Homo sapiens: one gene and its partner. The protein of the gene in region 2 interacts with the protein of the main gene of each other region in a pairwise test. Each region holds a gene or a part of one and is shown on either strand. Other genes may lie near its edges. The genes, in order: ARL6 and ARL6IP5.

The links.
Region 1: the proteins of ARL6IP5 (region 2) and ARL6 interact in a two-hybrid assay, tested with the Homo sapiens proteins (one study listed by BioGRID).

Annotation. Positions count from the first base shown.
Region 1 is NC_000003.12:97,781,069-97,789,033, forward strand, and holds part of ARL6 (ADP-ribosylation factor-like protein 6), read left to right. Parts: intron 1-3,886; coding exon 3,887-3,981; intron 3,982-6,921; coding exon 6,922-7,051; intron 7,052-7,965. UniProt on the Homo sapiens protein: Involved in membrane protein trafficking at the base of the ciliary organelle. Mediates recruitment onto plasma membrane of the BBSome complex which would constitute a coat complex required for sorting of specific membrane proteins to the primary cilia.
Region 2 is NC_000003.12:69,087,637-69,095,601, reverse strand, and holds part of ARL6IP5 (PRA1 family protein 3), read right to left. Parts: intron 1-7,965. UniProt on the Homo sapiens protein: Regulates intracellular concentrations of taurine and glutamate. Negatively modulates SLC1A1/EAAC1 glutamate transport activity by decreasing its affinity for glutamate in a PKC activity-dependent manner.

The DNA of each region.
Region 1 (7,965 bases), about 29 Mb from region 2:
TACCATGTCTTGAAGTTATGCACCATAGCCGCCTCCCTAGTGGAAGTGTGAACTCCTCAAGGGAAGGGATTATTTATTATTCATATTATTTTTTCAAGACCTAGTATGATGCTCAGCATATAGGCCAGTAAATATTATTGACTAAATTTAGTTAAAAATAACAGTGTTGCCTAACAGTTGATCCATTGTTCTATGAATAATTTGAAACAAGCCATTTTTCAGCATATGCAAGTCAAGTGCTCACTAATTTACACTTGGTCCTTCATGTCCTTGGGTTCTGCATTCCTGGATTAAACCAATTGTAGATCAAAAATATTTGGGGAGAAAAATGCCATAAAGTTCCAAAAAGCAAAACTTAAATTGCCGTGCACAAACTACTGTATTGAAAGCATATAAATGAGGTCATATGTAGGCATTGTATTACGTATTATAAGTAATCTAGGGTGATTTAAAGAATATGGAAGAATTTGCATATGTTATAAGCAAATACTAAGCCATTTTATATAAGAGACTTGAGCATCTGCAGATTTTGGTATTTGAAGGGGATCCTGGAACCAATCCCTCGCCAATTCGGAGGGATGACTATACTTCAGACTAATAGCTGTCAAGTTACTAGGACCCAAATGTGTTATACCTTCTGGAGATTTGCATATGGTAATAAAATAAATTCATTAGCTTCTAATATTGTTAGGACTTCATTTAAGAGCAATGTATTTCACTTTTAGAGTCTGAAACTTAAAAACACTATCTCTTAACTAAACTCTCTTTTGTCATTATGAACTGCTGCCTTGAAATGGTATGTGATATTTACCAGATAAGATTTAGATTTAGATTAACTCTTTCCTAATAATGTGAGACCAAACATTAAATGGTATATATTTGGGATATGAACCAGAGGAAATTTATTCAAATTTTTTTTTCAATGAGTCCTTCAATAAATTGAAGGCCTATTTAAATCGTAGGTCCAGAAGACTTCTGAGAGAGAGGGAAAAGAGAGTGCTTCAGATTCGAGGGTTAGTTTGGAAAAGGAAAAGTGGCATGTTTGTGGTATTCTGCATTAAATTCCTTGGGGAGATGCATTTTATGTGTTTCTTATTTGTTTGTGTGTTTAGGAAACCTGAGTTTTCAGTACAGGATTTTTTAAATTCCTCCTCCAATTAGTTGATAAATAATTCCTTTTAAAAATGTATTTAGCTACTTTAAAAATACTTTAATTTTAATTACAAAAATATATATAGAGAGAAAATAGTAGGAAAGTAAACTTTGTTTTTATTTGATTTTAACTCCTTTTTTCTTTGTACTGTTTTTGGATGAAATTTATGAATTCTAGAATAGAGTGGTTACATTGTAGATTGAATGGAGAATATGATTACTATTGAAAAATCAACAATAAAAGTAAATTTACTTTCCCTATTTTCGTACTTTTCTAACTGTGAAACAAAACAAGTACATTTTGATCTATTAGACTGAAAAAGGTTACAAAGATTAATAAAGTATGCTCTTGTCAAAGTGAGCCACTCCTGTGAGAATGTAATATCTTTTTCAGGGTAATTTATTGATATCTGTTAAAATGAAAAATGTTTATAAACTCCAGCAAGCATTTTTACTTTTAGAAAAGTATTCTATGACCAGGGCTTATGGGCAAAAAAATATACATAGAAGGTTGTATGTTAGCATTATTTATAACATTTTTATATCAATTATGTAAAAATGTTACTATAAATATTTATCTTTGCTATATATATAACCATAGTAGTAAAAAAAAAAAATCAAGGAAATTTACATTTGCTATAAATATGTACTTACTATGTATAGAAAGAAGAAAGTTCTTAGTGGATTATGCACCAAACCATTAGTAGCATTTATTTTTGGAATAGTAGGATTATAAGGGAAGTTTACTTTCTTTTATTTTTCTTTTCTTTTTTTTTTCACATCCTGTTTGGTGAAGAGAGACATTTACTTTCTCATCTATATGATGCCATAATGTTAAATATTATATAATTTTTACATACTATTTTTACAATATAAAAAGGTAATAGCATGCAAAAATATAAGGAGTACACATTTTTTAAATTTGGAAAATATAGAAGAGAATATTGAAAACATGTTTCCCATAAATCTCACTATTCATAAATTCACCATTGTCAATCTTTTTGGTATCTTTCTCCTCCTTTTGAAATATATAACATATACTTTATATAACTAAGGAAAAAGGAACCATCTAAATTATGTACCATGTATAATTTTGTATCTTGCTTTTTTCAGTTAACATGTGGTAAGGGTAAATCAGGAAAAACATGCAATGAATATAACTAACAGCTGCCTAATATTTTTTCACACAGCTTTGCCAAAATTTCTTTAACCATTTCTCTACTCTAGGACATGAAGGCTATTCTGTTTTTGAAAATTGTAAACAGTCCTTCAGTCAAAATCTTGTATAAATCTTAGCCCCAGTTCGTGATTCCTTAGAATGAATTTCAGAAATAAAATCACTGGCTCAAAGTGATTGAACGTTTTTATAGATCTTGATAGGTACTTTGATTGTTCTGGTTTCTATATGTACTGGTAATGTATGTCTGTGATAATCAGCATTATCCTTTTTTAATGATAGGAGAAAATGGTATATAAAAAGTTTTATTTTGTATATCATTTGATTATTAATCACATTGCAGTTTAAATACTTAATTTATGATTAAGTGATTCGCAAAAAAAAGTACAGATGTCCAATAAATATATGAAAAGATATTGAACCTCATTGGCAATTAATGAACTAGATCAAGATAATATGCTGTTAGAATGGCAATTATTGAAAAGAATGATGATAATGATAATAGCCAGTGCTGGCAAAGGAGTGAGAAAAGTACTGAGTCATGTAAATTGATATGGCATTTCTGGAGGACAGTTTGGAAATGTTTTTCTAAAACTTTAAATTATGTATGTAGTCTTAGAAATGTTACTCCTAACATTTCTAATAAATCTTAAAGCATCAGAACTTTTTTAAAAGAAAGGTATGTAGGAGGATATTTGCCTTAAAGTTTTTCATAATGATGAAAATTGGAAATAACCTAAAAGTCCAGCAACAAATGTTTGATACAGTATTTGATGACACATCCATGCAGTGCAATAGTTTAGAACCATTAAAAGAAGATAGTGCAGAGGAATAATCAATAATTTTTCAAGTGCCTATGTGATCCATGGGTGAATCCTTAACTAGTTCAATCACTGGCTATCAGCTTTTAAAAAATCAAATAGAATAAAATAAAAGCTATTTGTAAGTATTTTTTCAGAAGACTTTCACTTAAAATACATCTATATATACCTATGTGTCTACTGTATCTTAATACAAAATGTATTTCTCACTATGGTTTATGGTAAAAATAATTTATAAAAGTAGTAGTAAAACCATAGTAGTAAAAAAAAAAAAAATCAAGGAAATTTACATATGTATTGCAAAGGCAAGGTGTAATACAGGATTCCATTTTAAATACATATATAGTTTATTCATATGTAATATACACAAAGTGTAGCTTTATACCAAAATATTAATAATTATTGCATCGGTGTAATAGGGTTATGGTATTTTAACTCATTTTCTCATATTCTGATATTTTAATGAAAAAATTACTCATTTTTTAAAATTATGAAGTAGCAAGTCATTAAATTTACTTTATTATCCAAATGAAAAGGTATTTTACATGAAATATGACTAATGATTAATATATTTATCAGTCATATAAACTAATAAGAAACAACACCAAAAATTCTAATGATATATGGACATAGGACATAAGGAGATAATACTTAGGTTAGGAAATGCCCATGGATAATAAACATGGAAAAATTTATAAGTAAAGCTTTAATTTTTCTTTTTCTTTACATTACACAGAGAAGGCCAAGCTATTATTTTTGTCATTGATAGTAGTGATAGATTAAGAATGGTTGTGGCCAAAGAAGAACTCGATACTCTTCTGAATCATCCAGGTATGTGTGTGTCTTTCAGTCTGTATCTGTTCTTTGGGGTTCATTTATGTGTAATGTTTTGTTCTTTGGGTATTGCTTATACTATGTAATTATCTTTCATTTAAAATTTTTGAATTTAAAACATATATGTTATACAAAATTTATATTTTATGTACATCACCATATTTTGTAAATTTTGCATGCAATGTAAATGTAAAGCATTTTGCATTGTTTTTGGGGTGTCTAACATTTATTTCCTCAAAAATAAAAATTCCCTTTTTTCTGATTACATAAATTGTACCAAAGCAAAAAAAAAAAAAAAATCAGATGGAAAAATAAAATAAAGATCTGTGTATTTCAACACCCATTAAAATTATTTGTTACCATATTTTCATGCATTTCTCTATGTGTATCTGAGTTTGTGTGTGTTTAATTACAGCATTTCTTACATATTTATTCATATATATATATATATATATCTCCCAAAAATATCTGTAGGGTTGAGGACTGTGGGGACTATCATTGTTATTTACCAAAATGGAATCATATTCTTTACACTCTTCTGCATGTTTCTATTCTCAGTTAACACTTAATGATGGATATCCTTCCAAATCAAATTATATATAATTATGTAGTTATTCTTTTTAATGATGCCTAATATGGTTTACTATGAATGTACCACAGTTTATTTAATCATTCACCTGTTGATGTATACTTTCCTCCCGCCCAAGCCCCCACTACAAACAGTGCTCCAGTAAGTATTGTGGAACTCTGCATTTCTAGCCTTCCTCATGCCAAAAAAATTTAAATAGTGCTTGTGCTAGGACTTTCAGAAAAGGATGGTGGTTTAAGAGAACTGTGGATTTGTTAGAAATGAAATAGAAATAGTGTGGGGCTTTCTAATAAATGTTACTGCTTAACCACAATATCTTTGGTATTTTTAACAGATGACCTCAAGCTTACTGAAATTTTTGAAAAAAAATTATCCGCCCTGTACATTTTATTTGACTTTTTAATGTTAAAAACTTAGCAGTCTTGGCTGGGCGTGGTGGCTCAGGCCTGTAATCCCAGCACTTTGGGAGGGATTACAGGCGGGTGGATCACTTGAGGTCAGGAGTTCGAGACCAGCCTGGCCAACATGGTGAAACCCCATCTCTACTAAAAATACAGAAATTAGCCAGGCACGTGCACTTGTAATCCCATATGCTCAGGAGGCTGAAGCAGGAGAATTGCCTGAACCTGGAAGGTGGAGGTTGCAGTGAACTGAGATAGCACCACTGAGGGCAACGGAGGAGACTCTGTCTCAAAAAAAAAAACAAAAAACTTAGCAGTCTTGTATCTAGATTGATAATGCATTTTTGATTATGTCTTCCTTTCATATTAATCTTTCCAGTTTTTCTCTAAAAAGTGTTTCAGTGTTGAGCAGTAAAATGAAATAGTTCCTATAAAATATACTTCAAACAATGGGGATTTTGATTTCCTCAACTGAAGCCTTGTCTATGGATCTTAATGTACTACTTCCTTTATTTTATGGGATAGATTCCCAAGGGAGGGATTTCTCAGCTGAAGTGTATATGAACTTTTTAAAAAAATTGATGGCCATAAAAAATCTTTGAATAGCAAAATGTACTGTGAACAGATAAAGACAATGACAGGCAAGGGAAAATATTTGCAACTCATATCATAGCTACAGGGATATTTCTATACTACTTGTGTTTCTAAAAATCAGTAAGAATATAAAAGCTTAATAGAAAATGGGGAAAGGACATATCAGGTAAGTCAACAAAAACATAAATTTAAACATCTTTTGAATATATGGAAAGATTCTTGGCCTTTCTATTACCTATGATATGGAAAATATCAAGAAGTTTCATAGCAGTCTTTTGGCTAGGGGAGTGGAAACACTCATTCTTATACGTGGTTGTTGAAGTGTAAATTGATATAATTTTTAAGAGAAAGCAGTTTGGTAATCACTGTCTATCAAAAGAGAAATTTATGTCCTTTGACCCAACAATTCCACATCTTAAATTTATCCTAAGGACATACTGGCCGGTGTACAAAATTACCTATATACACATTTATTCATTACAGGATTGTTCATAGTTGTAAAGATTGGTAACAGGTATCTCAGTTGGGTTCTGGTTAAATAATAGTACATAGTACTAAAAGAAGAAATATTCCAGAACGGTTAAAATAATGAAGAAGCTGCTCTATATGTACTGATATGGGATCAGATCCAAGATATGTAAATAAATGAAAAGATAAAGGTATAAAGTAATGAGGTTGGCCTGCTATATGAAAATAATATATAATAATTATGTTTGCAAATACATAAAATATTTCTATGAAGATGCCAAGACACTGATGTTATGGGTTGCCTTTTCTACAGAGACCATTGTCCTAGGACAAAGTTAGGAAGGAGATTCTTTTACTGTATGCCATTTTGTATCTTCTGAATTTTGAACTATTTAAATGTATTGTCTATTCAAAAAAATGAAAAATGTTTCCAAAATCATGACAAGGTAAAAATATCTTTTAAAAATCTAGCTTGTTACTTATGATATTGTGACAAAAAACTTAAATAAGTTCCCAGTTTCTTTTCCTTCTACTTCTACTTGAAGTTTGCCTCCTTTCTGTTCACCATTAAAAAGGAAACAAAATATTTAATGCTTTTTTGTAGGTACTTCTCTGTAATGCTTATTGAGCTCCAGTCCCACCTCACCCATCTTTGGTTAAAGCTCCTAACCAGAGGGCAGATGGTCCTAGGAAGTATTTTTAAAATTTTGTTACTGCTCAAATACATGCCTAACAGTGTGACAGTATGTGTCTTTAAATGTTTCTGTGTGTGTGATATGAAAAAAGATAATTGAAAAAAAATTTCATGGGTTTCAGTACTAAAGATTTGCTGCAAAATGACCTAAAAAGCTGGAAGTGTGATGATAATCTTATTTTCTCTTTTAGATATTAAACACCGTCGAATTCCAATCTTATTCTTTGCAAATAAAATGGATCTTAGAGATGCAGTGACATCTGTAAAAGTGTCTCAGTTGCTGTGTTTAGAGAACATCAAAGATAAACCCTGGCATATTTGGTAAAGTTTTATATTTACTTTTCACTGTAGCTTTCTGAAAAATATACAAGCTTCAGAGTTGTTTCTTCTGATCTCATTTTTTAAAAATAAGTGATCAAACATGGTGGCATATAAGCTAAGGATTTTGTTTTGTAGAATTGTGGCATTGTAGGTTTTTACAAATATATTACTGTTAAAAACCTTTTTCAAATTTTTGGGGGGATAGGAAAATATAAACAACTCTTATAATGGAATAACTTAAAAGCTCACTTACTTACTGACTTCAGCTACACTGATTTCCTTCTGCACATGGAGTCAGCCAAGCACAGTCCCATCTAAGAGCATGTGCACTTGTATCCCCCTCCTTTGAATCATTTTCCAAAATAATTTTCCTGGCTTGCTAGAGTCACTATTACCATGTGACTGCTTTTTTTTTTGTTTATAGTCTGTCTGCCTATACAGGTGTGTTAGCTCCCTGACAGCTGGGGTTTTGTCAGTTTTCTTCACTTTAATAATCCCTACAATAGTCATAGTGCCTGGTATGTAATAGGTACACAATACATATTTGTTAAAATGAATAAATGGAAATGGAAATTTTAAGTTTACTTAGACATCCTAATAAGGTTGAACTCTTAAGTAATTAATGTTGAAATTGTTATGCATTGTTTGTTTGGAAAACAGTTTCTTATTTAACTCCATTGTGCCTTTCTACCAAAATATTCTAATAAGGATAAACAGAGATTATACATTAGATAGTATTTTAGTGCCTACGACTACCATCTTAAACTCCCTTCTACCCACCCACCTACCTCTCTCTGCTGTAAGAGGTCCTTTCCATGCCAGAGTTTCCCCCTTTTTATAAGAAGGTATCTGTGGGGAAGATTGGAAACAGAAGCAGAGAGATCCACTGCCACAAGAAGGGTGAACTAGAATAT
Region 2 (7,965 bases):
AATCACTTGAACCTGGGAGGTGGAGGTTGAAGTGAGCTGAGATTGTGCCACTCCAGCGTGGGTGACAGAGCCAGACTCCGTCTCAAAAAAAAAAAAAAGAACGAGGGATGGTGAGAAAGAAGGGAGAAACAGCAGGACCTAGTTTTGCAACTCAAAAACCGTTATGTTTTTCTATTGTGAAATTAAAAATATATTAATACATATGTTTGTATATATTTTAATTATATATATTTAAAATATGAACATGTATTACCCAATTCCAATAAATAATTAATAAATCTTTCCCTATAATAGTTACACATTCTAGAGCAGTCATTTATGGTTATAAAAAGGTTTAGAATCCCATCACAGAAATTTTGTAGCAGTCTTCAAAGATGAATCAGTCTAGTCCAATTATACAGATAACTAAACTGAGGCCCAGAGAAGAAACATATCCAAAGGGATCCAGGAGAGAAACAAGAAAACAAGGGTGCCAGTTGTGGCAGCAACTCACAGTAGAACCCATTCTGTCATGTTAACCGGCTTTAAGGATTTCCCCCACACTCTAAGTAACCTACTATAACCAAGGATCATCCTGGAAAATCCCTCTGCACTCTCATTTCTCTCTGAAACAAGGTGGCTATTAGTGGGTGTGGATACAGGTCCTAAACTTCCCAACGTGATTCAGTAGCTATGTCTATAGTTTTACCACAAGTTACTGAAAGGGGAAAAAAAAATCTCACAAAATTTTAGAGCTAGGAAGGATCTTGCTAACCCACCTCATTTTACACGTAAGCAAGCTAAAGAATATACAAGTTAATAAATTTGTCCAAGGCCACCAATTGCAAAGTTGGCAATAAAAGTTTGCCATAACAGAAATCCTCGGATCAACTCAAGGCCACATTTGGTGACTCCTGTCAGGCTGCAAGGCCAAAAAGAACCACCAAAGAGGCAGCAAAATATTTCCTGAGGAGTACAGGCAGCTTTGCACTGAGTTCCAATTTTCTAGCCGAAAAAGCTATTTTTGAAGTGTGGTTTCTGAGGAAGGCTGACTCACCGAAAAAGTGGGGAACAATATACTCACGGTGGACTTCTCTAAATTGGCGATGTTTCTCTGTGGTCCTTAATCAGCCAGAGGGATCACTGCAAATATGAACCCACCCAACCATTTTCTTTTCATTGTTCTTAAACTAAAAACAGAATTCTTTAAACATTCTACAAGGCTTCGCAGGGTCTGGCCCCTGCCTGCCTCTGCAGCCAGGGCCACTGTATATAGGTGTGGAGTTGGTGCCTGGCTGAGGGGGTAAGTGGGGCCTGGAATCCAGGTCACACACTCCACAAGCCAAGGCCAAAATTTGGCTTTGGCTGTAACTGCTAGGAGAGGAAGAAGTGCCTTAGTAATTAGCATGAGGGAACTCTCAGGGCTAGCAGCTGGCCTACCTGCCAGGTTTGTCACACCATCTCCTGATTGCACCCCCATCCACTCAGGGTTTCTATCTACCCCAGAACTCACCTTGCCTTTTGCCATCTCAGGGTGAGGTGAATCAGGCAGAGAGGATACTTTGCACACAGGCCTCACTCCACCCTCCTTCAAGTCTCAGCTCAGCCAGCCTTTCCTCAGTCTCTCTGACCAGAGCACAGCTCCATATGCCTTTTCTTTTCTTTCCTCAAGAAAGGTTCTTCCTCTGTCACTCAAGCTGGAGTATGATGGCATGGTCATAGCTCACTGCAGCCTCTTTCTCCCACACTCAAGTGACCTTCCTCAGCCTTCTGAGTAGCTGAAACTACAGACTACAGGTGAGTGCCAGCTTGCCTGGCTAATTTTTAATTTTTTTCTTTTCTTTTCTTTTTTTTTTTTTTTTGAGACAGAATCTCCCTCTGTCGGCAGGCTGAAGTGCAGTGACACAATCTTGGCTCGCTGCAACCTCTGACTCCCTGGTTCAAACAATTCTCCTGCCTCAGCCTCTCCAGTAGCTGGGATTAAAGCATGCGCCACCACACCCAGCTAATTTTTACATTTTTAGTAGAGACGATGTTTCACCATGTTGGCCAGGCTGGTCTCGAACTCCTGACCTCAAGTGATCTGCCTGCCTCAGCCTCCCAAAGTGGAGAGCTATTTTTGACTATAGGCATAAATGTGGGCTTTGGACACAAATTCGTCTTGAGTAAATGAGAACAGTGTCTCCTTGGCCTAAGGATCATGGAATAAAGGAGACTGTACAGTAGGTAAAACTGAACAGGAGCCTGTCTCTTTTGTTACAGAAAGGTCATAGTGAGATTTTCCTAACCAACTGAATTAGGAAGGCCTAGAGGATTTATTGTATTCTTGCCATTCCCTAAATATTTACTGTATCCTGTGTAATTTGGCACAAATTAAACACTCGCATCCAAACCAACCATTGTCTTTTTAACAGTTGGCATGTTAAAAGTGTTCATACTAAGACATGCCTTAGGAACCTCCAGATTTTCTTTTGTTTTTAATAAACAACAGGTTGGACTCGGATTAGAAACCATAAATCTGACGCTTCCCACAGTGACGGAGCTTCAAATAATAGTTGTGTACAAAGCTCTGATTAGACTTCATAAAACCCTTTTTAACTTTTCATTATGGAAAACTAACATATACATAGGTAGAGAGAATAATGTATAATGAATCTTCATGTATGCTCATCACTGCTTTCACAATTAGCAACCCATGGTTACTCTTAACAACCAATACTTTTTGGGGAACAGAAGTGGAAAGATATTTGTTTACAAACTGTTCTTCTTGAATGATTTTAGAAAATTAAAAAAAAAAAAAAAAGGCTGGGTACAGTGGCTCACACCTGTAATCCCAGCACTTTGGGAGGCTGAGGTGGGGGGATAACTTGAGGCTAGGAGTTCGACACCAGCCTGGCCAACATGGTGAAACCCCGTCTCTACTTAAAAATACAAAAATTAGCCAGGCATAATTGTGTGTGCCTGTAATCACTTAAAAATACAAAAATTAGCCAGGCATAGTTGTGCGTGCCTGTAATCCCAGCTACTTGGAGGCTAAGGCAGGAGAATCGCTTGAACCTGGGAGGCAGAGGTTGTAGTGAGCCAAGATCCTGCCATGGCATCCAGCTTGGGCGATGCAGAGAGACTCTGTCTTAACAAAACAAAACAAACAAAAGCTACTGAGAACTGTCACATGGCAAATTCTTACAGAGCTGTGGAGAGAAGACAGGGGCTGGACAAATGCTAACGAGCTTGGTAACACAGACTTCCTTCTCACAAGTTTCCTGTCTATTTACCCCTCACTAACCCCCAATTTCTGCATTCTTTTTCCTCTGAGACAAGGAGAAGCTGCACCAATGAGATATGAAGCAGATTAGAAGAAGCAGGGCTTTCTGCCTTCCAGGTGTCTCCTTTAGCAAATTGCATAACGAGAAGGAAGGCCAGGAAATCCTATCATATATCAATGATGAATGCTTGCAAACCTGAAGTTGTTAGCCTGAAGGTTTTGCCTAAAATTACAGGGCTTGAAGGCATTCTCAGAAACAGGAAGCCACGCTCATTTCAAGAGACAGAGGATGGTATTAAGGGTGAAGGCATTCTCAGAAACAGGAAGCCACGCTCATTTCAAGAGACAGAGGATGGTATTAAGGGTTAAGTTTTCTGAAGCTGAGTGATAAGGATAGAATTCATTTGTCCAAAAAATAAAAAATACAAAATTTCCAATATTGATGCTTAATTAGATATTAAGTGGGTAGGTCAAGAATGGGTCTTGACCTTTTTGAACTGGATTTCCTGTACAGAGCTCTCTGTCCCTAAGCTGATGGAGAGCTTCTCCTTTCTAAGACAGGGGGCCAGGAATCCAAAATACACTCATTTATTTGCACACTTACCTAGAATCATTGTAAATCCTTACCTAGGGAAAGGAAACAGAAACTACCAACCAAAGGCCAAAAGTAGCAGGCAACATTGAAAAAAAAAAAAAAAAAAAAGCTGGACGGAGAGGGGAGAGAAGTTCAGATAAACAAAGTTACATAAATAGTATCAAAGGTGTGCCAGCCATACCTCTCGCCTGTCATCCCAGCACTTTCGGAGACCAAGGCAGGAGGATTGCTTGAGCCCAGGAGTTCGAAACCAGCCTGGGCAACATGGCAAAAACCCTTCTCTACAAAAAAAAATACAACAATTAGCCAGGCTGGTGGCACATGCCTATAGTCCCAGCTACTTAAGATGCTGAGGCAGGAGGATCACCTGAGCCCAGGGAGGTAGAGGCTGTAGTGAGCCATGACTGCGCCACCATACTCCAGCCTGGGCAATAGAGTGAAACCCTGTCTCAAAATATATATATATGTATGTATATACACACACATATACACACATACACTGTCAGAGGTTATTTAATGAAAAGCAATCCTTATTAAAGATTTATATTTACTTATTTATTTTTTACACGGCGTCTCACTCTGTTACCCAGGCTGTAGTGCAGTGGCGTGCGTTCTTGGCTCATTGCAACCTCCGCCTCCCACGCTCAAAAGATCCTCCCACCTCAGCCTCCCAAGTAGCTGGGACCACAGATGCATGCCACCACGCCAGGCTAATTTTTTCTATTTTTGGTAGAGATGGGGTTTCGCCATGTTGCCCGGGCTGGTCTTAAACTCCTGAGCTTAGGTGATCTACCCGCCTCGGCCTCCCAAAGGGCTGGGATCACAGGCGTGAGCCATCATGTCCAGCCTAGATAAAGATTTTGAGATTAAAATGTTACTGTGTGTTGACAGACCTCTTAAAGTTCTGTATTCAGAAGAAACACATAAGCCATCAGAGGAAGACAGGTGCCAGCCTCAAATGCAAATAAATGGGCATCGAAGGGCAGGAGAATTCTGGGAGGATTTGGGAAGGCTGGTGGAGTTGTACTCCTGACTGTATCCTCAGGGCCTAGACAGTGTCTACCACATGGTAGGTGCTCAGTATTTGTTCAATGGAATAGAAGGATCTGAGCTGTGGGTTAGGATAGTAAAATTTAAAAAAACCTTTTTCCTGTCTACATACTCAATGCCTCCCCTATTCCCAACACCTGAGAGATTTGGAATTTGGAGTAATAATGTACAGGGGAGATCAGGTAAGTCAGGTTGAGAAGGATGTGTTTATGTAGGTGTGTATTTCTGTACACTTGCTATACTTGTATACAAATTAGTTATCATGTGTTCAGTGTGGTCTTGCTGCCTTTCCGTGAAGGCAGGAATCACAGCTGTCCTATTCTTCACTATCTCCTAGCAGTGTCTGAGAAGTTGGTAAGTGCTTCATACTCTTTGTTAATTGAATGAATGAAGCAACACAAATAAGAGTAATGTTGTAGAACTGGTGTTGAAGCTGACTAATCTCAAAAACATTTCCACTTGCTTTAGTATAAACAGACTGCAACTCATTCTATCTGCAATCATTTCAATAGATTCTGATCCAGAGCCTCCCAGGGTTGCCTTACGCTTTTTTTCCTCTACCAACTGGAAACTTGGTTCTTCATCTTTACAGCATTTAAAGGTACAAACAATACGAACATTTCATAATACCAGATGCTGGGAGCCACAGGCCTAGAACATATTACAGAGCCACCAAGCCACGTTCATTTTGAAAAGATTACATTAATGCTGTTTTCAAACTTATAATTACCAGCCTTCTAGAAACTCCTTACCATCTTGAGTAACTGAAAGCATAAAGTGGCAGCTGTCAATTCCACCCTCCTGCAACATCTCCATAGGCCAAATGATCAGGCCACATGGTGAGGAGTTACTTCAGCTGAGAAATCATGGGCTCATTCCTTCAGCAGCTACATGGTTCTATCTAAAGGGGGAGGCACAAATGTATATACATAAGAATACATGCAGCTCTCTTGCTGGAGAAGCAGCAGAGGCATTTTTATATGTTGCAAATTCTGTGTGTGGTTGGTGATTCTGAGGCCATACCAGAAAATATGAGTTCTAATGGCAGAAAATAATTTTTTTTTTTTTTTTTTTTAGACAGGGTTTCACTATGTTGCCCAGGCTAGTCTTAAACTCCTGGCCTTGAGCAATCCTCCCATCTCTGCCTCCCGAAGTGTTGGGATTACAGGTGTGAGCCACTATACCCATCCAGGAAAGAACTTTTCAGAATAAGACAGCAATAGCATTGCAAATATTGTAAGAGTCAGGGATGCAGTTGAATTTGGTTAATCAAGAGCTTTAGAAAATTTGCAATATGGCTTAATGGAAAAAATATTTCACTTCCTATTATTAGCAGCTTTAGTTCCAATTAGCCTGTGACCTCGAGCTTTTACATTTCAGAAGTTACGGGGTTCAAGAGGATCAGTATTTCTCCTAGGGGTGTATAATCACAATCACTTAGGAAGTTAGAGAAAAAGAAAAAAACAACAGATGCCTGGACCCTGCCAAGAACTATACATTTTGAATCACGGAAGGTGACACCTGGGCATATAGGTATATTTATTTAAATTTTCTTTTGAGCCAGACCAATCCAGTGCCTCTCAGATTTTAATGTACCTATGAATCATCTGAGACTTTTGTTAAAATGTAGATTCTAACCCAGTAGGTCTGAAATGGGGCCTGAGATGCTTCACTTCTGACAAGCTCTCAGGCGAAAGATGCTGCTGTTCCATGGCTCACACACTGAACAGAGTTCTCCAGCTCAAATCATTTGGCATTCCATTAAGCACAAAGAAGTTTTCATCCACAACTAGAATGTATCACACGCTTAGTACTTAAATTGCAAGTGTCATTAGGTGTTGCCTTTGTTTTTCACTTTGAAGATCAAGGTAGAGACTTCTATTGTTGTGTGTGATGTGAAAAGAATATCTTAATCCCAAAACGTCTCACATCAAGGATGCAGAAGGTAAGCTATGGCAACTTCGATCTTAGACACTTTTCCTTCTTGATGTAAAGGATCCAAAGGCATTTCCAGCAAAACGCAAGTTTCCTAGCCTGTTATTCATGCTATTCCTTTTAAATAATTCAATCTCTTCTGATCAGAAGTTTAAACACAGATTTATCTCTATCCTAATCCCTCTTAATCTCCGTCTTGGTATGGGCAGTTTTTTCCAGTGTTTCTGGATCTAGATAGTATTTGCTATGTTCTTCCCTCACCCTTCCTGAAATCTTGAAGAGGAGGCCCTCTCTATCCTCATCTAAGCCAGTTTCCAACATTGGAGAGCTGAGGCTAGAGCACTCCTACAATGCCCTTGAGGCTCTCCTCACCAGCAGGGGATGGAACCATTGTTGAACACTCTTTTATCCAGGTCACATTTTCACATATACTCTACCAAGATATTCTGAGAAACTAGAGAGAAGTCTGTGGAGGATCCAGATGAACAGCTGCCAGCACTGCTCTGACCTACCCATCTACTAGCATCACCGAAAGAGGATAGTTCTCTTTAGAATGAGAAGTGTTCTGGAATCAAGGACGCTCCCTAACTCTGAAGATGTTTGGTTTCTTCCTTGTGACTCATAGTAAGACAGAACAGTAGTTAAGAGCACAAGCCTAAGTTTGTGACTTTGAGTAAATCATTTAACCTCTCTGAGCCTCAGGTTTAATGATAAAAAAAAAGTAACAGTTTTTTAAAATTGGGTTCTATGACATAATGCAGGTAAAATACTTTGCAAGGTACCTGACACACAGAGCACTCAATAAATATTTATATTATTAAATGATAAAGAAAGAAAAGAGAACAACTGGTGGAAAAAACTACTGACTGTGCTTATAGTTGCATAGAAAACAGTTAGGGGTTATATACCAAACTTTTACTGAAGTATGAAGGAAATTTCACATTTTATCCACATAATTTTCAAATCAACCTTTACTACTAGCCTGTATCTTTTGTAAGTTTTTAAAAATAAGGATAAGTTTTAAAAACTTCATGGCTACTTTTCACTTTTTCACTTCAAAATTTTCATTGACAACCAACAACTCTTATTTGAAAGGAAAATGAGGAGGGCCAACACCCCTAAACTACCTGAGTTAGTGGCC